2 separate regions of the Homo sapiens genome follow, and region 2 is linked to region 1. Evidence: fine-mapped expression QTL. A gene starts in region 1. The other region holds a variant in brackets. All regions are shown on one strand. Distances are between the middles of the regions. Region 1 holds the start of GALK2 (galactokinase 2). Region 2 overlaps GALK2 (galactokinase 2).

The links. PIP is the estimated chance that this variant, and not a neighbour inherited with it, causes the effect.
Region 2: its variant is fine-mapped to the expression of GALK2 in monocytes (BLUEPRINT, PIP 0.94).

The regions. Positions count from the first base shown.
Region 1 is chr15:49,162,915-49,175,633 of GRCh38, forward strand. It overlaps GALK2 (galactokinase 2), which reads left to right and starts at 7,333. Exons shown (of 10, transcript NM_002044.4): 1 at 7,333-7,461. The coding sequence starts at 7,409. MIR4716 (microRNA 4716) reads right to left here and starts at 6,239; the gene lies at 6,156-6,239. RefSeq lists enhancers at 6,745-7,649, 7,281-7,520.
Region 2 is chr15:49,311,880-49,324,598 of GRCh38, forward strand. It overlaps GALK2 (galactokinase 2), which reads left to right. Exons shown (of 10, transcript NM_002044.4): 9 at 7,725-7,926. Among named protein-coding and RNA genes, the nearest start is that of FGF7, 110 kb to the right of the region's middle. The variant TA/T (reference allele first, on the strand shown) is at 6,179.

The DNA.
Region 1 (12,719 bases):
GTGAGATAATAAATGTGTATTTATTTATACTACTACATTTGTAGTAATATTGTTACGCAGAATAGATGTGAATGCAGTTAGTAAATATCTTGTAGTGAAATGGTTGGGTCATATGGTAGGTATATATTTAACTTTTTAAGAAACTCTCAAATTGTTTTCCTAAGTGGTTTTACCATTTTGCATATCCAACAGCAGTGCATAAGAGTTCTAGTTGCTCCACATCCTTGCCAACATTTAGTGTGGTCAATCTTTTTAACTTTAGCTACTCTAGCAGGAATGTAGCAGTATACTATTGTAGTTTTAATTTGCATTTACTTAATAACTAATGTTGAACATTTTTTGTGTGCTTATTTGTCATCTATGTATCTTCTTTGGTGAAATGTTTTTAAATATATTTTGCCTATTTTTTAAACTGGGTTGTTTATCTTATTACTGTTGAGTTGTAAGAGTTCTTTATGCTTTTTGTGTTGTATTCATCTTTGTCATACCTAAGGGCGCTGAGATTTTCACTTATGTTTTTTTCTGGAAGTTTTATATAGTTTTACCTCTTCCATTTAGGTCTGCGATCCATTTCAAATTTAATTTTCGTGTATAGTGTGAATGAATGTGGAGGTTCATTAGTTTGCATATGGATGTCAAATTGTTCCAGCATCATTTGTTGAAAAGATACGCTTTTTCAATTGAGTTGTCTTGGCACCTTTGTCAAAAATCCAATGACAGTTTAATTGTCAGCATAATTTGATCCTTTTAAAATATATTTTTCATAATTGTATGCTACCTTGTATTACAATTATTTCCATTTATTCATTATTAAACAGAAAGCTCCTTGAGGACACAACTGTCTTTCTTACTTCTGAATTCTCTGAAATGCAGCATATGCCTTGCTTATAGAAGATTCTCAATGAAAATGTGATGTGTTTAAGTAAACTTTAGCATTCATGACTCTTCACAGGCCTTGGCTGAGTCATACCAAACAGGTTTATGATTTGGCATCCTTTCAGACCAATCATCTTTAAAATTTTTTTTTACTATATTAATTTGGGGAGACTGAACACTGTGTGTTAGAAGAGCAGAAAAAGAGGACTCCTTTTGTATTAGTAAAGTTCTGGAAAGAAAACTCGTGGCATACTCAGGGAAGTTAACTGAAAATTTAATTAAGGGACTATTTATAGAGATGGAGGCAGGGTTAAGGGAATCAACAACTACTTATACTAAGCCTTCAGAATGCTCCAGACTGCAATTATATCTTTCATCTCTATAGTTGACATAGGAGGAATATGCTAATACAGTATGATTAAGCATTGAAGGGGTTCAGAATATGCCACCCCAAAATATGCTACTTTGGCCTAAGTATTATTTTGAGCCGAAGCCAATTGACAACCAGTAGATGCAGTTATGTCAGTCACTGGAGAGCATTAGCAAATGTATTCCAAAAAAAAAAAAAATTGCTTAAGATAATAACCACAATCAGCTCCTCATTGAGGTGGGCAACATTGGATGGTTATGACAAGGTGAGGAAAGAATTGTCTAGTTTGAAGATTCTTGGTACTATATTTAGTTTCTAGGTGAAGAAATAAAAAGGAAGGCTGGGCATGGTGGCTCATACCTGTAATCGCAGCACTTTGGGAGGCCAAGGCAGGTGGATCACCTGAGGTCAGGAGTTCAAGATCAGCCTGGCCAACATGGTAAAACCCCATCTCTACTAATCATACAAAAATTAGCCGAGCGTGGTGGCGCATGCCTGTAATCCCAGATGCTCCGGAGGCTGAGGCAGGAGAATCGCTTGAACCCAGCAGGCGGAGGTTGCAGTGAGCCGAGATCATGCCATTGCACTCAGCCTGGATGACAAAAGCAAAACTCCGTCTCAAAAAAAAAAAAAAAAAAAAAAAAAAGAAATAAAAAGGAAAAAACAAAATATAGTTTTAAATTGGGGCAATTTATCTGTAGTTTGGTCAGGCTAATGTACACTGTAAGCTTGAAATGCAAATTTCTAATTTCAGAGTCTAAATATTTGTTTCTCAGATTTCATTTTGATGATGGAATGTATACTAGATGCAGAGTTTGCATCAATTTTTGTAATATATTCATTTATTTACTTAACTAATTTTAATTTGCCATAATAGCAGGAGCTTTTTGTTTATGTTTATTGTTGTATCCCCAGTGCCTAGAATAGTGCTTAGAACATAGTAGCACAGAGAAACATTTGTTAAATGAATGAATGAATGATAGAATAATGGATGAAACATGGAATATGAATTTTAGTGGAGGTGACAGGTAATAAGTATAAAAATCAATAAATAATGTAATTTCAGATGGCCTTAAAGACAGCAAACCAGATTTAGGTGATAGAGAATAACTGGAGAGAATGTTGGGATGGTTTTTAAAATCTTCATAATAACCCTATGAAGTAGGTATTTTTATCTCCCTTTTTTAGAAGAGGAATTTCAGACTTGCCTAGGGTCACAAAGTAGTGGAACCACGCTAATCTGATTTCATTAATTTATTCCTTCATTAAACATTCCTTGAGTGCCTGCTCAACACTGAGCCAGAGTCTATAAAATCAGAGTAAAACAGTCTTTGCCTTCAGGGAGCTTATAATCTAGCTCTGTGCTGTCTAATATAGCAGCCACTTGTTTCTCATCATAATTGAGATATGCTGTAATTGAGATATGCTGGATTTTGGAGACTTATTTAAAAAAGTAAAATGTCAATAATTTAAAATATTATATTTAAAATGATATTTTGGTGTATTAGATAAAATATATTATTAAATTTAACATTTCTTTTTATTGTTTTGAAAGTGGCTTCTAGAAAATTTAAAATGGCATGTTTGACTTGCATTGTAGATTCTGATTCAGTAGGTCTGGGCCCAAGATAATGTATTTCTTTTTTTTTTTTTTTTTATTGAGACGGAGTCTTGCTCTGTCACCCAGGCTGGAGTGCAGTGGTGCCATCTCCGCTCACTGCAAGCTCCGCCTCCCAGGTTCACGCCATTCTCCTGCCTTAGCCTCCCGAGTAGCTGGGACTACAGGCGCCCACCACCACGCCCAGCTAATTTTTTGTATTTTTAGTAGAGATGGGGTTTCACTGTGTTAGCCAGGATGGTCTCGATCTCCCGACCTTGTGATCTGCCCGCCTCGGCCTCCCAAAGTGCTGGAATTACACTGCGCCCGGCCCAAGATAATGTATTTCTAAAAACTTTCAAGTGACGCTGATGCTGCTGTTCTGAGGACCACACTTTGAGTAGAAAAACTTAGACTAGACAGAAAACAAGTAATTAGAGTACTGATGTGATGCTTTGTATGACTGGGCAAGCAGAGGGTGCTTAGAGTCTTCGTTTTGTTTTGCTTTGTTTTTCACTCTGCAAAACAATCTATGTTCGGTTAAAGCATTTTTGCACAATTTTTATTTCCTCCATAACTACATAAATATAGATTTCTCTGATTCATGAGTTTATCTTTTGCCATTTAATGATTATATACACTAGAGAGCAGTATCTATTTTATGAACAGAAGAATAAGGGGCCGGGTGCAGTAGCTCACGCCTGTAATCTCAGCACTTTGGGAGGCCGAGGCAGGTGGATGGCCTCAGTTCAGGAGTTTGAGACCAGCCTGGCCAACATGTTGAAACCCCATCTCTACTAAAAATACAAAAATTAAGTGGCAGGCACCTGTAATCCCAGCTACTCGGGAGGCTGAGGCAGGAGAATCACTTGAACCCGGAAGGCGGAGGTTGCAGTGAGCCGAGATCGCGCCATTGCACTCCAGCCTGGGCAACAAGAGCGAGACTTGGTCTCAACAACAACAACAAAAAAGAAGGAATGTAACATCATTATAAAGAAGACATAAACAAGTATTACATATTATTTACTATAATGAGAAAATATCCAAAATAGGTCACTGAAGTAGATTCTCCCAATTGTGAACAATAGTTTTTATTGTAAGTCAAAATAGGAAATATTTTCCAGAGGTTGCACAAACAGATTAAACCACAGAAATAACATTATTTCAGATAAATGGTCAATCCCTCTGTGGTCTTAGACATTTAGTTTTGGGTAGAGAACATGGAAAACTTCCTGAAGGAAGTGATTTCTAAGCTGAGAAACATCAATAGGCACTAGCCAGGTCTGTAAGTCTCTAACACCCATGCTTTAACTCATATTTTGGATCAAGTTTTTGTATTCTTTCATTTTAGTGTTTGTTTTGTTTTTGTTTAGTTTGCTATAATATTTTATCTGAATGGAGACTAATATCCTTTGAGGAGAAACAATTTCAAGTTTATTAATTAGGTTTCTGTTTAAGACTCCATCATAATATACCATTTATTAGTTTATAATTCAGATTCTAAACCTATTGTAAGAGTGCCTACTTGCAAAAAGCAAAGAACCAGAGGTTCAGGATTTGTGAAAATAAAAATACTGTAAAATATAAATGTTTAAATATTTTCTTTTCTTTTTTTTTGAGATGGAGTTTCGCTCTTGGTTGCCCAGGCTGGAGTGCAGTGGCGTGATTTTGGCTTACTCAATCTCCATCTCCTGGGTTCAAGCGATTCTCCCGCCTCAGCCTCCCAAGCTGCTGGGATTACAGGCGCCCGCCACCACACCTGGCTATATTTTTGTAGTTTTAGTAGAGATGGGGTTTCACCATGTTGGCCAGGCCGTTCTCGAACTCCTGACCTCAGGTGATCTGCCCACCTTGGCCTCCCAAAGTGCTGGGATTATAGGCATGAGCCACTGTGCCCAGCCAAATGTTTAAATGTTTTCACTATTAGATATGTCTAATAAGAACTAAAGGAATATCTTCTTGAAATTGAAAAGGAAATAATATTTTTCTATCCCATAAGGATTGTTGGAAAGGTTTAAAGAGACAATAATATACGCAAAGTGCTTACTTAGCAAGATGCCTAGTATAAGGAAGGTAGTATAAGAAAGTAATGTTTTGTTTTTGGTGTCCATTTGGGGTTCTCTAGTAGTTTGGACAGGTTATTTTAAGAGTAATCCTTTATGAAAATTATAATGTACACATTTTATTTTGGGACAAGGATTCTAATCATTTCAATAATTTATTTTTAAGCACAGTTTACTGGGGTCTCAACAAAAGTCACATATTCAGAAGTAGTATGGCCTCTAGGCTAGGAGTCTAGAGACCTAGGTTTTAGTTCTAGCTCTGTTAATCCTGTTTTACTTTGTGCCAATCATTTCAAAAAAGGATGCTTTACTAATTGCTCTGTAAGGTGCTTTCTAGTCTGCATCGGTTTTGTTGAGACTGCAATAGCAATGTATCCAAGGTCCAAACTAATGATTTGCCATCTGGTTTCATTTAGCAAAGTTAATGTTCGGTCATCAAGTACATATTCAGTAGGAAGTATTCTTTTTCGAAACAGTTTCTACAGTCATTTTTTTTTAACCCTGTATAAAATGAGTTTATTTTGGACTGTTAAAAAAATTCAAAACTTTAAAATTTGTTATTTTTCAACTAATGCAAAAGAATATATTAGAAACATCTGAATAAAAAATGATTCTGGGCTGGGCACGGTGGCTCACACCTTTAATCCCAGAATTTTGGAAGGCCGAGGTGGGCTGATCACCTGAGGTCAGGAGCTCGAGACCAGCCTGCCCAGCATGGTGAAACCCCGTCTTTACTAAAAATACAAAAATTAGCTGGTGTGGTGGCGGCTGCCTGTATTCCCAGCTACTTGGGAGGCTGAGACGGGAGAATCGTTTGAACCTGGGAGGTGGAGGTTGTAGTGAACAGAGATCATGCCATTGCACTCCAGCCTGGGCAACAAAGAGCGAAACTCCATCTAAAAAAAAAAAAAAAGATTCTGTTCTTTTCTGTATTTACTGATGTCCCTAAACATTTTACATTTTTTTTTAAAATTTAGGTTATCTCCCTATTAAAACTATTTACAAGTGACAGTGATGACTCCTGTTACTCAAAATTAAACCAAAATGAACATCAAACTGGGATTTATTGGGGCCCAGAAACAAGAAGATATAATTCATTCATTTGAAAATGATAAAGAGGGACTGAAATAATAGTGAGAAAGCTGCCCTGAGACCAGAGTAACTTTGTTTCTTTGATGTATCATTTACAGTAATAACCCAACGGGGTGCCAAGGGGCTGCCACTCTTTGGCTATGCTTTATTGTCCATTCACACTTTGTCTCCATGTTTCCTTCCCCCTTCCTCCTGTATACATGTATACAGAAGGGGGAAGGAAACATGGAGACAAAGTATGCATATACATATAGAAATTCTGGAGCAGTAACTTACTGATGTATACAACTTATCGAATCTCTCTGAGTTATGCTACTACCCCTAGTGTGTTGGGCATGTTGGCTCAAACTTCCTTAATCAGGAAACTTTGGAATGGGTTTATTGCTAGCTGTCTTTGCTTGGGTTTAATCTCAATATTTCTGAGGTGCAAAGTGCACTAGATTGAGAGTTAATAGATCTGAATTTTAATTCCAGTTTTGTTCCCAATGATCACTGTGACCTCAGGCACATCATTTCACCTTTCGTCGTTCATTCAGTTTATCTTACCTATTCATTAAAAACCAATCTGCCTGCCCCCAGTTGCTTTCTAGTGGTAGTGATGATGGAGGTGGTGAGAGACACAATAAATACATAAGCAAATAGGAGAACTATGAAGGAAGGAAAAGTTAGTGATGTACTAGGGATAGTGTACTTTTGATAGGGCATCTAGGATTTCTCTAGATAAGTGAAAAATGAAGAGGTTTAACTGGATGCTAAGGGGTCTTGCACATTAAAAGGCATGTGTTTCCGTCTTTTCACTACTGTGTTCTAGGAAGGCCCACCAATGCCTCTAACCTGTAAATAAATGCAAATCTATTTAAATCAAGTGATACATCAATTTTATGTTGCTTGATTTGGAAGTAATCCGCAAAGAAGCAATAGCTAAACATTTTAGTGTTGTTTGGGGAGTAGCTGCTGAACAATAAAGACCAAAACCATAACTAAAAAACAAACAAACAAACAAAAAAACGCAGCCCGAGACAGATCAGAAACTAGGTGTATGTAGGGCGCCAGGTTATGACACTGTTCTCTGACATCCACAGGGCGCAAAAAGAAAACCTCACTAGTCAGCTTCGCACGTGCTCTGCGCAGGGGCTCCTGCGAGGCCCTAGTCCCTCCCTGGGAGCTAAGAGCAGGACGGAGGCTGTACCTGACTGCTGCTTGGAGGGAACCCTGGCTGAGTCCAGGGAGGAGGAGCCAGAGGAGGGGCCGATTGGAAGCAGCCACCTCAGCGAAGCTGCAGGATTTCCGCAGGGCGGGAGCTGTTTATCTCCCGGAAGAAAACGGCTCCTGTCACAGAAGTCTCGTGATTGCTCTGGGAGCTTTGCTTAGACACTTGAAACTACAGGAGAAAGAAGGATCTAGCGAAATATGGCTACAGAGAGCCCTGCTACGCGTCGGGTCCAGGTGGCAGAACATCCTAGGTGGGGGAGAGGAGACGCCGGGCTTTGGGATCTGCTGGGTTGGCTACGTGTAGATCGGGTCCACAGCACTTGGCTCCTCCCTTGGGGCGCTGCTTTTGGTCCCGGGGAGCAAGTGGAACCCTTGGGATTCTATAAGGACACGTGGCTGGGCTTGCAAAAAAGATCACGCCGCAAACACATTCTACCTTGACTACTACGAAGGGTTGTATGTTTTTTTCTTCATCCATGCAGATTCTTCTTTTCCTTTTCTTGTTGTAATTAGTGTACTCTTTCTACTGGGCTTCAGCAGAAATGCCCATATCCACACTGAACTCCTCTCTTTGTCTCGCATGCCAGTTGATACTGCTTTTTAAAAGTCTTCTTTCTAAATATTAATTGAAAACAAACACAAAAACCTTCTTGGTGTCTGCATCCTCTTTAAAACAAAACAAAACAAAAACACGAGAATCTCTGAACTGTCACTTAGGGAATTAATTTGCTGGCAGTCCCTAGCTACACAGTAACTAATAGTTTAGTGATGTCTCGGGGAGGATCTTTTCAGTTACAGGTACTTTGTAGAAATACTTCGTTCTGACTAATGGGGCTGAGGTCTCATAAAATGAAGTCTGTCACCTGCTACATTAGCGAAGGGCTTTCCTGACTCTCTGCTTTTGCTGTTTTTCTTTTCTTTTCTTTCTTCCTTCCTTTCTTTTTTCTTTTTCTTTTTCTTTTTTTTTTTTTTTTTGAGACGGAGTTTTGCTCTTGTTGCCCAGGCTGGAGTGCAGTGGCGCCATCTTGGCTCACCGCAACCTCCGCCTCCCAGGTTCAAGCGATTCTCCTGTCTCAGCCTCCTGAGTAGGTGGGATTACAGGCAGGCGTCACCACACCCGGCTAATTTTGTATTTTCATCAGAGATGGGGTTTCTCTATGTTGGTCAGGCTGGTCTCGAGCTCCTGAGCTCAAGTGATCCGCTCACCCTGGCCTCCCAAAGTGCTGGGATTACAGACGTGAGCCATCGCGCCCGGCCCTCTGCCTTTGCTGTTTTCAGTTTTTTTCTGTTAGTTTTTTTCTCTGGCATCAAGTCCTTAAGCTCTTCCTACTTGGTGGTTTATTACCACCGTGTGTCAGTTGATGATATTATACTTTACTACAACTTGAAAATGTTCTTTCATCCTTAAACCAGCAAACAGTGTGTCTTTAGTTACCAGAAAGAAGCATGATTTCTTATTATAGAGTCCAGCACAGCTTTGGACTACTTCTCAATGTCTTTGAATGTTTTAATATACTCTAGAGGTTCTTGTATAGCACTGTTGCCCTTATATATTTGAATTAATTAAGACACACTGTTAAAGGCATGCTTCCAATAAGATTAATGAGAAATTTGTTACATGAAAATAACTTGATCTCTTGTAGTTTAGTCTTATTTTTTTTTTTTGAGACAGAGTCTTGTTCTGTTGCCCAGGCTGGAGTATAGTGGCGCAGTCTCCGCTCACTGCAACCTCCACCTCCCAGGTTCAATCCATTCTCCTGCCTTAGCCTCCAGAGTAGCTGGGATTACAAGTGCCCGCCACCACGCCCCGTTATTTTTTTGTGTTTTTGGTAGAGACGGAGTTTCGCCATGTTGGCCAGGCTGGTCTCCAACTTGTGACCTCAAGTGATCCGCCCGTCTCAGCCTCCCAAATTGCTGGGATTACAGGCGTGAGCCACCGTGCCACGTCTATAGTTTAATCTTCTACATAAAACATACCCATGTGTAAATTCCTAATGTGTTTCCATTTTATGTGATTGTAATAATAAAGATCAACATTTCTATCTATATTTACCCTGTTTGGGGGAGGATGGTGGTAACAAGTATAGGTACATGTACTAAAAGTGAAGAATTGTTTACTGAATTTCCTTAGTGTTCTTCTTGCTTTTCATGATTTTTATATTATTCATGTAACAAATATTTATTGTTAATATTTATTCTGTGTTATCCACAGAAGAGATCATAGTAGATAAGCTCTGCCGTTTTCTTGTTTTTCATTTGTGCACAAAATGCAATTATTAGCTTCAAGCAATGTTTTATTTGCAGGAATGTTTTGCAGCCACTTACTCATTCTAGGAGGGATGTATTTTATTAAATCTAAATAGTATAATCTATAAATTCACCTAACCGGTCAAGTATTGCAATATGCTGAGAAGGAAAAAAAATGAATGAATGGTCAGCCTGCTTTCTTGTGGAACTCTTATTCTTTTTCCAGGATGCCTCTTCAACCTCACAAGGCACATGATCCTTTGAGTAAAGGCACTGGTCAACCATATCATACATTTTAGTAAAACTTAATTTTATTTTTATTATTTTTATGTAAAAATCAAATAGAAATTGAAGTTCTAATATTTTCTTTCTGTGTCCCACTCTTGCATGGTACCGGTACCGTAAGACTCTGAATTTCACTGTTCTGGCTTTCTTTGCATTCTTAGCAGTTGTATCTCTTATCTTTACTTTCTCTTTTGGATTAAGTTTTAAAACTTGTTGGATTATTGCTATTTTTGTAGCAGTTTTATTGACATTCACGTATCATATAACTAATTCATTTAAAGTTTGCAATTAAATGGGTTTAATGTATTCATAGAGCTATGCAACCATCACCATAATCAAATTTAGAACGTTTTCTTAGAAAGAACCCAGCCATCCCTTAGATTATCACACCCCAGAACTCCATTCCCTTTCCCCTCACCTAGCCTTAAACAACTACTGCTCTGTTTTCTGTATTTATAGATTTAGTCACTTTGGGCATTTCAAATGAATGGAATCATATAAAATGTGTGTTTTTTTGGTGACTGGCTTCTTCCATGTGGCATAATGTTCTGAAGGTTCATGTATCAGTACATCATTTAACATGTATCAGTATATCATTCCTTTTTATGGTTAAATAATATTCTAGCTTATGGATATACATTTTGTTTATACATTCAACAATTGATGGACATTTGGGTTGCTTCTATCTTTTGGCTCTTATGAATAATGCTGCTGTATGAACACATTCTTGAGTCTCTATTCTACCAGTTGAGCTAGCAGGGTGACACTGAATACATTTTTAATATTAAAAATTTGGATTATTTAAAAGTATATTCAGTAAAGCCTGAAAATCCCACAGTTTCTTTCCTGATTGTCTCTGATTTCTACCCTTGGCTGCCAATTTCTACTTCTCTTCTTAGAAGTTATTCATTTGGTTTGTATCCTTGTAATATTATTGTGTCCTTATATCATTGTTACTATATTTTATAAAAATGATATATTCACATAAGTCCAATAATTATATTTGTTTTTTTTTACTTACTTTTTTTCACTTAATCTTTCTCAGATATCTGGTATATCAGTTCATACAGATATATTTCACTATTTTTACTTATTTCATTTTATTTTTTGAGACAGAGTCTCGCTCTGTTGGCTGGAGTGCAGTGGCACTATCTTGGCTCACTGCAGCCTCCGCTCTTGGGTTCAAGAGATTCTCCTTGTCTCAGCCTTCCAAGTAGTTGGGATCACAGGAATGTGCCACCATGTCTGGCTAATTTTTGTATTTTTAGTAGAGACAGGATTTCACCATATTGGCCAGGCTGGTCTTGAACTCCTGACCTCAAGTGATCCACCCGCCTTGGTCTCCCTGGGATTACAGGCTGAGCCGCTGTGCCCCGGACTATTTCACTGTTTTTAAGGGCTGAGAGTATTTTGTAGTATGAATACCATTATTTAACCACTCAACATTTAGTACACTTAGATTTCTAATTTTTCTCTCTTGTAAACAATGCTGCAACAAACATCCTTGTGTACATATACATATGTACATATATGTATATATATTCTCTGAGCATTCTTGTGAATTTTTTAAAGCTCATTTATGAAAATGGAAGCAGAGCCAAAGGTAATAAACATTTAAAATGTTGATAGCTCCTGTCAAATGGCCCTGCAAAAAAGATGTTATTGGATTGCCTATTTCTTGCTTTTTTGTTTGTTTGTTTTGTTTTTAAGAGACAGTCTCACTCTGTTGCCCAGGCTGGAGTGCAGTGTCATGAACTCGGCTCACCACAACCACCACTTGCCGGGTTCAAGCAGTTTTCCTGCCTCAGCCTCCCAAGTAGCTGGGACTACAGGTGCTCACCACCACGCCAGGCTAATTTTTGTATTTTTAGTAGAGACAGGGTTTCACTATGTTGGCCGGGCTGGTTTCGAACTCCTGACCTCGTGATCTGCCTGCCTTGGTCTCCCAAAGTGCTGGGATTACAGGCATGAGCCACAGCACTTGGCCTATTTCTTGTTATTTTTAGAAACTCTTTTTATATGTGTGTATTTTTGTATTTGTATGTATTTTTAATAGAAACCATTTATTCTATATATATTATAAATATAGTTTCTAGTTTAACTTTATGACATCTTATGTAGACATTTTATAATTTATGCATTGTAGTATGTTGAATAATAATGATGATAGCATCTTTGTCTTCACCCTTATTTTAATATGTCATCCAAATGACCACCAGAATGGTGAGATAGTAGAAAGAAGAGCTTTATTGGCACTATCAGTTTGTAGACCAGAAGAGAGAGTCTGCAGTGTGGACTGAAGGTGTTCTAACTTCGAGTAGGGAAGAGGAAGTTTGGGTTTTAGGCCCCACAGAGTCTGTCTTATACAATAGAGTCATACATATTCAGTAGGTTTTGGGGAAAAGCTATACATATTTATGAGGGGAGCCAAGCACATGCGCAGTGGGTAAACATATATGTAACATACATCCCATGTTCCCTTCGTGGCAGGTTTTAGCATTAAAATGAGGTGGAATTTGGCTCACATAACAAGGTGAGCTATAGGACACAAAGACAGTTAGTGCACAGCCTTTATAGGCTGGCTGAAACTAGCTTAAGGTCTGCAGTTGTTTATCAGAAAAGAATGTTTGTAAGGCTGGTCCTCTGTCCAATCAGAGTTGTAGTGGCCTGGATCATAAGTCAGAGTTAGGAGGTGTCCAATAGCTGCTATTGCTAGGGGGTTTAGCAAGAGAGTGGTTTTACTTGTAGCCATGAGAATTTAGGAAGTTGTTACACCTCGACCTGTAACTTTTGTTACCTTAACTTTAGAGTCCCCCTTACCTGATAAAGGGACATCTACTTAAGTTTCTCAGATCACAAATGGGAATGCTTCTAATATTTTGCCATCAAATATGATGTTTGCTGTTTCTGGTAAACATCCTTTATTAAATTAAGGACATGCCCTTTTCTAGTAGGTGAGAAAAGAAAAATAGCTCTG
Region 2 (12,719 bases), 150 kb after region 1:
GCCCCAGGCTTCCCATTGCCTGTGGGCCAATGGTAGGCACATTCGACATGACTCTTCAGAGAGATCCCTGAGAGATTGGGCCGGGGGCTGTCCACACAGTTAATCTGCTCATTAAGCCCCCTTTATTGGCTTGCTTTCTTTCCTGAATCACTTTTCTTCCTCTTTCACTCCTGCTTTCTAGATTACTGCTCCCTGCATCCAAGTCTTTATCTCAAGCTCTACTCTCAGGTGCATCTAGATCCAGACACCCTCTTGACTGTGTGCATCTATTTTAGCTGTGAGATGCTGCTTTAGCATCTCTTGCCCTTTGTTGATCTCATTTAATGATTTCTTTCTAGTAGACTATTACTTGTGGGGCGTAAACAGCTTATCTTATTGTGATGTGAGTGGGCACCATCCAACTGGCTGCCAGTATGGGTAGAACAAAGCAGGTAGAAGAAGGGAGATAGGTTTTGCTGAGTCTTCTTGCTCTCTTTCTCTTCCTGTGTCAGATGCTTGTTTCCTCTCCTCAGGAAGGACATCAGATTCTATGTTCTTCAGCCTTGGAATCTGGGACTTAAACCAGCAGCCTTCTGGGGGCCCTAGGGCCTTTGGCTTCAGACTGAGGGCTGCACTGTTGGCTTCTCTGGTTTTGAGGTTCTCAGACTTGGACTGAGTCATACTACTGTCCTCTCTCCCTCCCCAGCTTAGAGACAGCCTATCAAGGAGACTTCTCCTTGTGATTATATCAGCCAATTCTCCCTCTTTTGTATACCTATATATCCTGTTGTTTGTGTCTCACTGGAGAACCCTGATTAGTACACTTATTCATTATTGGTCCCTAAGCAGGTACATAGTGGACCCTCAACAATGTGTAAAAGGCACAGTGCATGAGAGCTGTCTTCAGATATCTGAAGGGTTACCTTGTGTTTACATATGTCTGGGGAACAGAACCAAGACCAAAGAGTAGAAGTTACAGGAAGACAGATTATAATTCAATACATTGTTTATCAGTGCACCTATGGGAGGTGATATTTGATAGCAACAGTAACAGTGGCTCATTATGGCATGATGACCCACTCAGGGAAGATATTTGCCCACTCTTCTGCTGAGAAGTCCTATTATAGAAAGTTTTATAGAACAAGGACCACAAGCACATACCTGCAAGGACCAGGCTGGCATATAAACTAGTGAGGCAGGCTAAGTGTCACATAGTTGGGAATGGTGAGAACTGTGTGGAATAAAGTGTGTGTACCCTGACTCAAAGGGGTAGGTACTCCTTAGCTCCAGCCAACAGTTGCTAGACAGTAATGCAGATCCAGCACTGTCAGACCTTCCAGTTTTCCAAAAGTAAGTAGAAATCCAGATTCTTAGGTAAATCTTCCAATATAAAGACATTTGAGTCAAGAAGGCATCACCGTGGCTGGCTATGGCACATGGGTTGTTTGTAATCTTTGTGTAGTGGATGTAGCTGAGGATGCTAAAGCCTCAGATGTGAGGATAGCTTTCTAGAGAGCCAGATTCTGGTCAGCTTGCTCTCTTCAGGCCCATGAACACACTCTGCCTGTTCCCACCTTGGGCCTTTGGCCATCCTCTCTTCACAGAAGGGACACTGTGTGGCTCAGGCCCCTCTCCTGTGACATCTCCCACTACTGGTCCTTCCCCAGCAAGCCCTGTCTTCTTGGTGCACCTTCAGCATTTCCAGCACTCAGATGTCTGCTGCAATTGCTCACTGTCTAGTAGTGTCATAGTTTGTCTTATCTGTGTAACTAAGTTATAAGTTCCCTTAATGCAGAGGTTCTACTTCATGTGGCTTTCCTGTCATTTGGAGCACAGTATTGGGTGCATAGCAGGTGCTCAATAAGAACTGTTGGTTAACTTTTGCTAGATGACTATCATACTCAGTGCTTATGGCATCCCTCTTAGTAGAAGATGAGGTAATAAAGAAGAGGCCACCAGCTCTTGCATGGAGAACTTAAAATTAAATCAGTGAAGCTCTTTCAGATGACTCAGTGCTTTTGGCATTGCTCTTAGCAGAAGATGAGGTAATAAAGAAGAGGCCACTAGCCCTTGCATGCATAGGTTAAATTTAAATCAGTGGGACTCTTTCAGAGATGAAATAGACATGTCCTCTATCTACTGTTGACCTGCTGTCCTCAGAGCTTAAAGTGGCGCTCAGTGTGCCTCACCTGTCAAAGGCTTTCCCTCACCATTTCCCACCAGAGATCCAATAAAATAACCAATTATGTGTGCCCTGATTTAGATTCCTTGATTAGAGATGGGTTCTGATCATAAACTATGTAACCATCTTTTAAAGGAAAACGTTAATAGGCAACTCTTTGTTACAAAGATTGCCTAAAAGAAAAACTAATTTTAACTGTTTACAATTATCCATTTTTATATTCTTTCTCTTTTATTTGAAACAGATTTTGTTTTAGAAATCTCTTTTCTCTCACATCTGTAAAGCAAAATACAATATAAACAATTCTCAGTCATCTGTGATAATGAATATTAGGGTATACTTTGGGCACTGAAGTTTACTAATTGTTTCCAAACTTTATTTTAGCAAACTTTCCCCACTTTTTGGTGAGGATGCTAGTGAGTATAAATTGTTAAAATAGTATGTCTCCTTTATATTCCATATTGTACTTGTCTCACTACTGTTTATTTAGCCTAGTTTCAGTGCAGTTTTGTTACAAGGAGAAGGATTTGAATTATGCATTCAACAAACATTTATTGAACCCCTACTAAGTGCCAGATCCTATTTTAGCTGCTAGAGATAGTTATGAAGAAACTAGACAAGGCCCTTGCTTTCTTGGAGCTGAGCTTCCATTGGTGGGAGACAACCACAAACCAATGAACAAATGAACACACAGGAAAATATTGGATGGTGATAGGTGTTGGGAGCATAAAATAGAATGGAGAAAATATGTATGTGTGTGGGCTACTCCAGATTGGAGTTGAGTCTCTTCAAAGCTGTGACATCTGAGTGTTGAACCACAAGAAGGAACCAGCCATGTGAAGATCTTGGGGAAGAGCATTTCAGGACAACAAAACAGCTACTGCCAAGGGCCTGTCACAGGAGCCACATGGTGTGCTGGAAGCACAGCTCGGAGGCTGGGCAGAAGGAATTTAGCCAATATAATTTATTATACAAGCCAAAATTATTAGCAACAAAATGAAATATTTATTTTGCAGTTTAAGTATATATAGCCATGAACATTTAGATTTCAGAATTTGTGCCATGATTTCATGACTAGATTCAGTAATTATTTAAGATTCACATTGGAGAAAATCAGTGTTCTGAAGACTATGACGTATATCCCGCTTTGAAGTTTTGGATTTTTCTTGAATAGGATAGGCCATTAACAATATTGGAGGAAAATATCATCTAGTGTTATATTCTTAAATTGAATTTGCCTTGGAAGTAATCATGCATGCAATGAACATAGTAAGAAACAGCTTCTTTCATCCTTTAATGTAATAATTGCTCCCAAGGATTACAAGAGCTTATAGACAGCTGGAACATCCAGCTATAATGTTAGCTGGACAGGGAAGAAAGTTGTTATGGATAAAGCTTCAGATTTTCTTGGATTTTTTGGTATCTGTATAACAGAGACCTGATGAGTTGCCAGCACATAACAAGCCAGAACCCTGGATCCAGAGAGCATTTGTGACATTCAGCCAACACAGAACTGCTTTCCCACCCAAAGGGTGGTCTCCAAATCTGTTGTAGCTTTTGGCAAGATTTTTATATCACAATTGAAAACAGATGCCCTTTCTGCCCTTTCCCTTGTTGTCTGAGTTACTACCGTTCAAGAGATTGCAAGCCATGGCAATCTCTCATGCACCTTCAGAATGCCCAGCAAGAGTCCTCGTTAGACATTCCTATTCAGAAGTCCTGCTGTGACACACTTCCTCTGCAAGAAGAGAACAGATTCAGGAAGGTGCCAGGATTGTGAGGTTCTGGTAGTCTGCAGGGTGTACTGTGAATGCTTTTTGTCAAAATCAAAGCACCAGTCCTGGGTTTAATAGAAAACATCTCTCTGGATAGTTTCTATTTTAAAATATTTAATCCTAAAATAAAATATTTAATCCTAAAGAAATATGTAATCCTAAAGGAAAACCAAAGTGTACTCTCCCTGATGGACTATATTGAGTTTTATTACAGGATATGGCCCTAAAATGTGCTTGGATGGGATATTGAAAATCCAGAGTATCAAAAATCACTAAACTACTAAATTCTTGATTGACTAAAAGAGACTTATTAGACATAACAACTGAATATAATGTGTGGAATTTGTTTGGATCTTGGTGTAAACCAGTTGAAATGTAAACTGGTGGACAATTGGGAAAATTTAAATATGGACTGAATATCAGGCAATATTAAGGAACCACTGGTAATTTTGTTAGGTGTGATAATGATATAGTGGTTATCTACGAAAGTAAGAGTTATAAGGACAGTGCTGTGGAGGGGAAAAATGAAACCTGAAACTTTAATAAGATTTATTGGTTCAAACACCACATGTTCTCACTCGTAGCTGGGAATTGAACAATGAGAACACATGGACACAGGGAGGGGAACATCACACATGGGGGCCTGTAGTGGGGTGGGGGTAGGGGGGAGGGATAGCATTAGGAGATATACCTAATGTAAATGACGAGTTAATGGGTACAGCACACCAACATGGCACATGTATACATATGTAACAAACCTGCACGTTGTGCACATGTACCCTAGAGCTCAAAGTATAATACAAATAAATAAATAAATAAACAAGAAAAATCAAGGGCAAAAAAAAAATTATTGGCTCATTAGTAGAAATGTAAAAGTGCTTCAGAAAAAGTAATCATAGTTTAGGGGAGAGGAACCTAGGGGCAGACCCAGGAGGAGAGAAAGTCATGTAGAAAAGGAGATTTTGAAGGATGTTCAGTGTCCTTCAGTGGAAAGACACTGCCAGCTCTAAATGGCTCTGCAAGGGAGGAGCCGGGGAATAAATCCTCTGACATCACTCTCTTCCCTCCCATCTATTGCTGATCTTTTCCTGCTCTCAAATCTAGATGGCAAGGGACTCACTGGTGTAGTCTATACAGGTCAGCCTTTGGGGCTGATAGTAGGGTGGAAAAGGGCAGAGAGTAGGACTGGGGTGTAAACAAAAGCTACCAGTAACAGCATCTTCTTTACAAAGTATAACAATATGGGGGGAATGTTGAAGGATAGATACTTTTGGAAGAAGCCCTTCATAGAATTATAAAATGTTAGGGCTGGGAGTATCCTGAGAAGTGATTCTCAACCTCATTTTAGAGGTGAGGAAATAAAGGGAGCATTATACAGGTAGCAATTTGTGTACAGCTAGTTGTCACAGATCTGTTAAGAAATTACAGACTTTTTGATATGAACAGACACTTCTCAGAAGAAGACATTTATGCGGCCAAAAAACGTGAAAAAAAGTGCATCATCACTGGTCATTAGAGAAATGCAAATCAAAACCACAATGAGATACCATCTCACACCAGTTAGAAAGGCGGTTATTAAAAAGTCAGGAAGCAATAGATGCTGGAGAGGATGTGGAGAAATAGGAATGCTTTTACACTGTTGTTGGGAATGTAAATTAGTTCAACCATTGTGGAAGACAGTGTGGCGATTCCTCAAGGATCTTGAACTAGAAAGACCATTTGACCCAGCAATCCCATTACTGGGTATATACCCAAAGGACTATAAATCATTCTACTATAAAGACACATGCACACATATGTTTATTGCAGCACTATTCACAATAGCAAAGACTTGGAACCAACCCAAATGCCCATCAATGATAGATTGGATAAAGAAAATGTGGCACATATACACCATGGAATAATATGCAGCCATAAAAAAGGATGAGTTCGTGTCCTTTACAGGGACATGGATGAAGCTGGAAACTATCATTCTCAGCAAACTAACACAGGAGCAGAAAACCAAACACCACATGTTCTCACTCATAAGTGGGAGTTGAACAATGGACACATGGACACAGGGAAAGGGGAACAACACATACTGGGGCCTGTCAGTGGGTTGGGAGCTAGGGGAGGGATAGCATTAGGAGAAATACCTAATAGAGATGACGGGTTGATGGGTGCAGCAAACCACCATGGCATGGTATATCTATGTAACAAACCTGCACATTCTGCACATGTATCCCAGAATTTAAAGTAAAAT[TA/T]AAAAAAAAAATTATAGACTTTTTGATTTTCAGCCCTGTCTCTTTCCCCTAGGCCTGGGAATTTTCATAAATTTTCCAAAATTTTCCCAGACCCACCACACCAGCTCAGCAACTGTTCAGCATGGGTGAAAATGGTAAGGAAGTCTCAGTTGTTATTCACAGGAATGTGTAAGCATTATAGACATAGCCATTGCAATATACCATGTTTCTGTAGCTGAAATTACAGTGTCACTGTGGGTAATCTGGAAAATACATATATGTGTCAAAAGGAAAATAAAATCACCCATAATGGACCACAGAGATAACTAATATTAACATTTTCGTGCTTTCCTATCAGTTTTTTAAATTAAAATATACATAAATATGTGTATGCAAAATTAGTATCAGTTGTACATATAGTTTTGTAGGTTGTTTTTTCACTTAATAATGAATAATTTCCTATATATCAAATTGCCTTAGAATCTGAGTTTTGATAGCAGTAATATTTCAAAAATGAATATAGCATAATTTTTAAAAGTCCTCTGTTATTAGATATTTGTTTCTTATTTTCTTCTATGATAAATAATGCTGCAATATATATATATAGGTACATATATAAACATTATATATCCCATATAAATAATTGTGTTTATCTGGGACATATAATATTTTTATTTAAAAAATTGCCACCATAAGAATTTCCAGTGGTCCTTTCTGTTGGGGCAGAGTGGAAAGAACATGGCTCTAGGGCCAGGCATCCCTGATCTGTTTGGCTTCCGCCACATTCTGGATGTGTGTCCTTAAGCATGTCACTTCACTCTATTGAGCCTCCTTCTCTTTTCTGTTAACAGGGATCATACTGCACATCCCTCAGTGCTGTGATGAGAACTTTATGAGGTAGTACTTTTCTTTCTTTCTTTTTTTTTTTTTTGAGACGGAGTCGTGCTCTATCGCCCAGGCTGGAGTGCAACGGCGTGATCTCAGCTCACTGCAACCTCTGCCTCCCAGGTTCAAGCAATTCTCCCACTTCAGTCTCTCAAATAGCTGGGATTACATGCACCCACCATCATCATGCCCAGGTAATTTTTGTACTTTTAGTAGAGATGGGTTTTCACCATGTTGGTCAGGCTGGTCTTGAACTCCTGACCTCAGATGATCCACCTGCCTCGGCCTCCCAAAGTGCTGGGATTACGGATGTGAGCTACCGCGCCTGGCCTACACAAAGTAGTATTTTAAAGTGTTTGGCATGTAGGGTGTACTCATTACATGTTAGGTCTGTCTTCATTTGGGATGGATTAGATTGCACACAAGTATATGCACATGTGTGTTGAGTGAAGTGAAGGAAATATAGTTACAAGATTTTATTCAGTATCAAGAAAAAAGTAAACCTGACTTGCCGATAGACACATTTCAATTGAAAGAATCCTTTCAGCAAGAGAGACCTATTGAAGTTTAAGATACTGATAATGAAAACAGAAATGAAAGTCTTTAAAAGTGTATTTTTCTTTATACTGGGTTGTCCAGTAACTATTCCTAACCTCCTTCCCCATCCTCTTCCTTCCTCAGTGCTCATCTTCAAACTCTATCAGCGGGCAAAGCATGTGTACAGCGAGGCTGCGCGAGTGCTCCAGTTTAAGAAGATATGTGAAGAAGCACCTGAAAACATGGTCCAGCTGCTGGGAGAGTTGATGAACCAGAGCCACATGAGCTGCCGGGACATGTATGAGTGCAGCTGCCCCGAGCTGGATCAGCTGGTGGACATCTGTCGGTGAGGCAGCCTGGTGGGGGCCAAGGGATGCCATCAAATAATATTGTTTAAATTAATGGAAAAAAATGCAACATTTCATAATCTACGGGAATGAAGATCATTCCCCACTTCCTATATGAGGAGTCTCTGATGATACAGAGCTACACTTGTTCCCTTCTAAATACCTGTAGGATGAAAGATTTGCTACCTGGCTCCATGATTTTATGAGGCTCTGGGTTTGGAGTCAGTTTGGAGTCAGCTCTTTACATCATGAGAAAGACCTTTCCGTCTTTGGATGATTAGGCCTTTCAGGATGGTAACTTTGCTCAGAGCTGGGCCCTGTTAACTTTCTTATGATATGTTTTATTATACTGCTGCTCTGCCAGAAACTCCTGTCCAGTGTCCTAATTAAGTTTAGTAGTTCTACTCAGAAGAAGGGAGAAAACTGACAGAGGATCTCAAGCTTGATGGGAGCATGTGGGGAGATTTGCTGAAGGAATCACCCAGAAAGCCAGCATTTCCTGCCTTCTAGGTTTAGTTTAGGCAGTTTGAGGAAATAAAGGCTGAAGAAAGCCCAGGTGATACATGGTTAATAGAGGCAGAAATGTAAAGAGGACAACTCTTTCACAAAGCCTAAAATCAGCTTTCCTAAAATTGTGAAAGAATGGAGATAACAGAGTTAGTCCTCTTACCCAGGAAGGAGCTCAGTGACCCTGGGAGAACTGAAACTGGGAAAGTTCTCAAACGCTAGATGTTACTTCACTGTGAGAACACAATGCTACACTACAATTAGTAATGGAAATGTAATTAACCACTTGGCACTTGTGGCTTGCCTCAGTCATTGCCACACTCCCAGCCTGAAAAGTTTAAACCAAGTAACTCCAGTGATCACAAATGGCCTGGGTAATCCAGCTTGTCAAAAGACTTGAACACAGCATTGATGAAGATCACTCTGCTGACATGTTTGCTCACTCATTTCCAAAAGCCTTCCCCAGCTTGTTTCATTTTAAGTACCCTTTTCTGAAAATATCAAGGGCCTAGTATATGGAAGGGACAAATATTGTTCAGTTCTGGAAATAAGAGGAAGTGGAATTATTTCTGCAGAGATCAGGAAGAAATGTCTTTGCCTGGAAGGAAGTGGGATGGTTGGAATCCCACCTGAAAAGCTGCGGAAGGGCATTTGCCAGCTTCCTGGAATTCTCTAATAAACTTTCTCTTCCTAGAGTGGTCAACCTGTACTTGTTTTCATGGAGCTTACATTCTCGTGGGGAAAGAGAGAAATGACAATTAAAAATAATTTGAATGGTAGTGATAAGTGCTATGGAAAAAAATGAGAAGGAATAGAGACTACAGGTTTGGGTGGGTACTCTTTCTGTGGAGTGGTTGAAGAAGGTCACTCTGACGAAGAGATCTTTGAGCAGAGGCCTGAAGGAGGTGAATAAATGAGAACAGCAAATGCATAGGCCCTGAGGTGGATACTTGGCTGTCAGGTGTGAGGCTCAGCAGGATCAGCATGGCAGAGGGCCAGGAAGGAAGGAGAGGTAGTAGATGAAGTAAGGAAGGAAGTGGGGAGCCACACCATATAGGCCGTGTAGGCCATCGGAAGGCTTCTGGCTTTGAGAAGAGAAAGGGGGCAATGGAAATGCTAGGCAATTCTATGCCAAATATGCCTGCAAGGAAGACTTAGATAATTGCTGTGTGGGTATAAGAGAGAAATCAAGACGACTCCTGGGTTTTTGTCCTGAGAAACTTTCCTTGTGCCTCTAAAAGCCACATTTTTGAAAAGCACACTTCACCACTGTAGGTAAGAGTTATCTTAGAGTACCATAAAATATTAGATCAGGAAGGGGTCTTAGAGATCCAGGAAGGCACTAAGAGATGAAATAATTTGAGTAAGTTTCACATATGAGTTCATTGGAAAGCCTGGCTCCCAATCCAATGATTTTGCCACACGTGCCTCTCCCCTTGGGTTATACTAAGATGTGATTACACTTAAATGTGGGTCATACATACGTGTGTGTACGTGTGTGTTTGTAACCTATTTTCATCTCCTAGCTTTGAAGCTTTATGATGGAGGCCTTTGTTGTCATAGTTTCCAGCATTTGAACATTAAGCAAAGTCATGTTGAGCAGGAACGTAATGTGTAGAGTAGGATGAAAAGTGGGCTGGAAGTGAGGAAGCTTGGATTCCGACTCTCTTTTCATTCTGAGCTCTGTGAGCTGGAACTGTTGCTTCGCTTTGTGTTCTCCATTGGCTTTTTCTGTTCTAGCAGTCTACAGACCTATACATTTAAAAAATATGGTTCTAGTGAAAAAGCTTATGGCTATGTCTTAAATGGGTTTGGAAGAGTACCTTTTATTTATCTTTTCATTTTGTTTGTTTTTGGAAAATCCTTTCTTAATGGCAGCTAAAGTGTTTCATTTTCATTTGCTGTATTTATTTTCTGAGAAAAATTCAGTTCTGTGAAAAATTCAGGAGCTCCATCACTTTTTCATGATTGTTTTGTTTGGAAAGCCAATTGCTAAGTATCAAAGTTATTTTCTACTTATTCGATAACCATATAGGGTCCAAGTTTTCCATATTGAAAGATTATCTTCTGGCTTGTTGGCCAGAATAGTTGTCTGGTCCTTAAAGCTTCTTATATAATTAATTTTTTCTTTGCTGTCACTGTGACCAGCAGATAATATTCTTCAAATGTTTCAGTTGGCTGCAAGTTACTGAAAGGTCCTAAGTGGCAGAGCAACCTCAGAGGAGGATAGCCCCAGGGGAATTAAGTTGATGCAGGCATTATGTCCTTCCCTCCTTCAATCAATACATATTTTCACATGGGTATCTTTGTACCGTGTGAAATTGCAGTCTATTCTCTACTTTCAAAAGCTGTGACTTTCTCTTGCCGGGCCCAATTGCTCACACCTGTAATCCCAGCACTTTGGGAGGCCAAGGCGGGCAGATCATGAGGTCAGGAGATCGAGATCATCCTGGCTAACACGGTGAAACCCCATCTCTATTAAAAATACAAAAAATTAGCCGAGCGTGGCGGCATGCGCCTGTAGTCCCAGCTACTCGGGAGGCTGAGGCGGGAGAATGGCGTGAACCCGGGAGGCAGAGCTTGCAGTGAGCCGAGATCGCAACACTGCCCTCCAGCCTGTGGGACAGAGCAAGACTCCATCTCAGGTAAAAAAAAAAAAAAAAGAAAAAAAAAAAAAGATGTCTGGAAAGTAATGAGGCAAGAAGGAGGGGTTCAGAAGAATGCAGAAATTAGTGGGAATAAGATAAAGGATGGATAAAGGATGGGGAAGACAGACGGTACAAGAGTAGCAGGTAGTAACATGGGGAAAGGTTCGAATGAACAGTGGAGCTACTTGTAAGCCCTAGTTCCTTCTGAAGCCTTGTGACTGTCTCACTGGGTCAGGCAGAGAAGGTGTTGGACATACTGGAAGGGGTCCTGGCAAGGCCTGGTGTGAGCCACTGGTGCCACAGACACAACCTCTAGCAAAGTATTGCTTTGTTTAAAAACCACCACCACCTCCACAATTACCCTGCCACCATTAAAAATGTTAACATCAGTAGGGAAGGTGTGACTAAGACTGGGCAGCCTGAGCAGGTTGCTTGTTTTCCCCAAAAGAGGGAGGAGGAGGGAAGCTGAAATGGGTTCAAGGAGGAGCACTGCCAAAAATAATCTTTACATCACCCTCCCTGGTCCACTTATGGCACTTCAAAATTCCTTTAGTGTTTCTGAAGGGCTTCTTGGAAACTATTTGTATGAAAAGACAACTAATTGAGTGAGTAAATTAACGGCTTGAATACCTAGAATACCTAAGTTGCTATACACAAGCAGAAAATCTTACAGTGATCTGAGCTAGACTGAATTAAAAAGGCATCTCCTACTTAGCATATAGGACAATGTATAGAACAACTTTGTGACCCAAGTGGAGAGAAGGGGGGTTGGGAAAGAGCACCACTGCTAGCTGTCTTTTTCAGTTGAACCTTTTCCTGCTCTTCAAGAGAAAATCAGTTTAGAATCTAAAGAAAGGAGCAGGGAGGATGAAGGAAACTATACTTACAGAGTGAGGCTTTTTTAAAAAATTAAATTAATGTTAGAACTTAAATTATATGAAACAAAGTAAATAATGAAGGAAAAAGATAATGTTTGCTGAATTATAAAGTATCTTTTGTAGCCAAACAAAATGTAAACAGAAAGAAATGACTAAATTTTAAGTAGAATTTACTGGAGAACACAAAACAATTTTGAAACCAAGTCAGTTATATGTGAGACAGCTCATTCACTATTGGTTCCCTCGTTTTACTTAAGACAAAATGGTTAATGCCTTTTGTTTTTGTTTTGACACTTGTTGAAGTTAGAGAGGATTAATTGCTGCATTATCGCCCAAGCTATTAAGGGAGATGAATGACAAATTTTAGTGGATCAACTATGATTACAAAAGTTAATTTACTTTGTCTTCCTCAGAAGTCTTTCTGCAATGTATTCCATGGTGAGGCTGCTCAGCCTCTCGCATCCATTCTTCAACAAGGTCATAATGGGGAAGAATGAAGTGCAAATCCATTGTTGCATGCTCTTTCCCCATGACCTTAAGTGCTAACATGCATACCCTGTCAAAAAAAAAAAAAGAGGGAGGGAGCCATTTCACCTCCCCTTAGGGGTTCACTTCTCTTTGGGCCTCTTTGACTTATGAATATACATGCCATTTGCAGGACCCAAACCCACTGCTCTTCAATGGCCTTTAAGTGGCTTACATTTCTAAAGTAGACATGTGGGCATATTTTCTTATCCTTTCTCATTTGAACACTGAAGG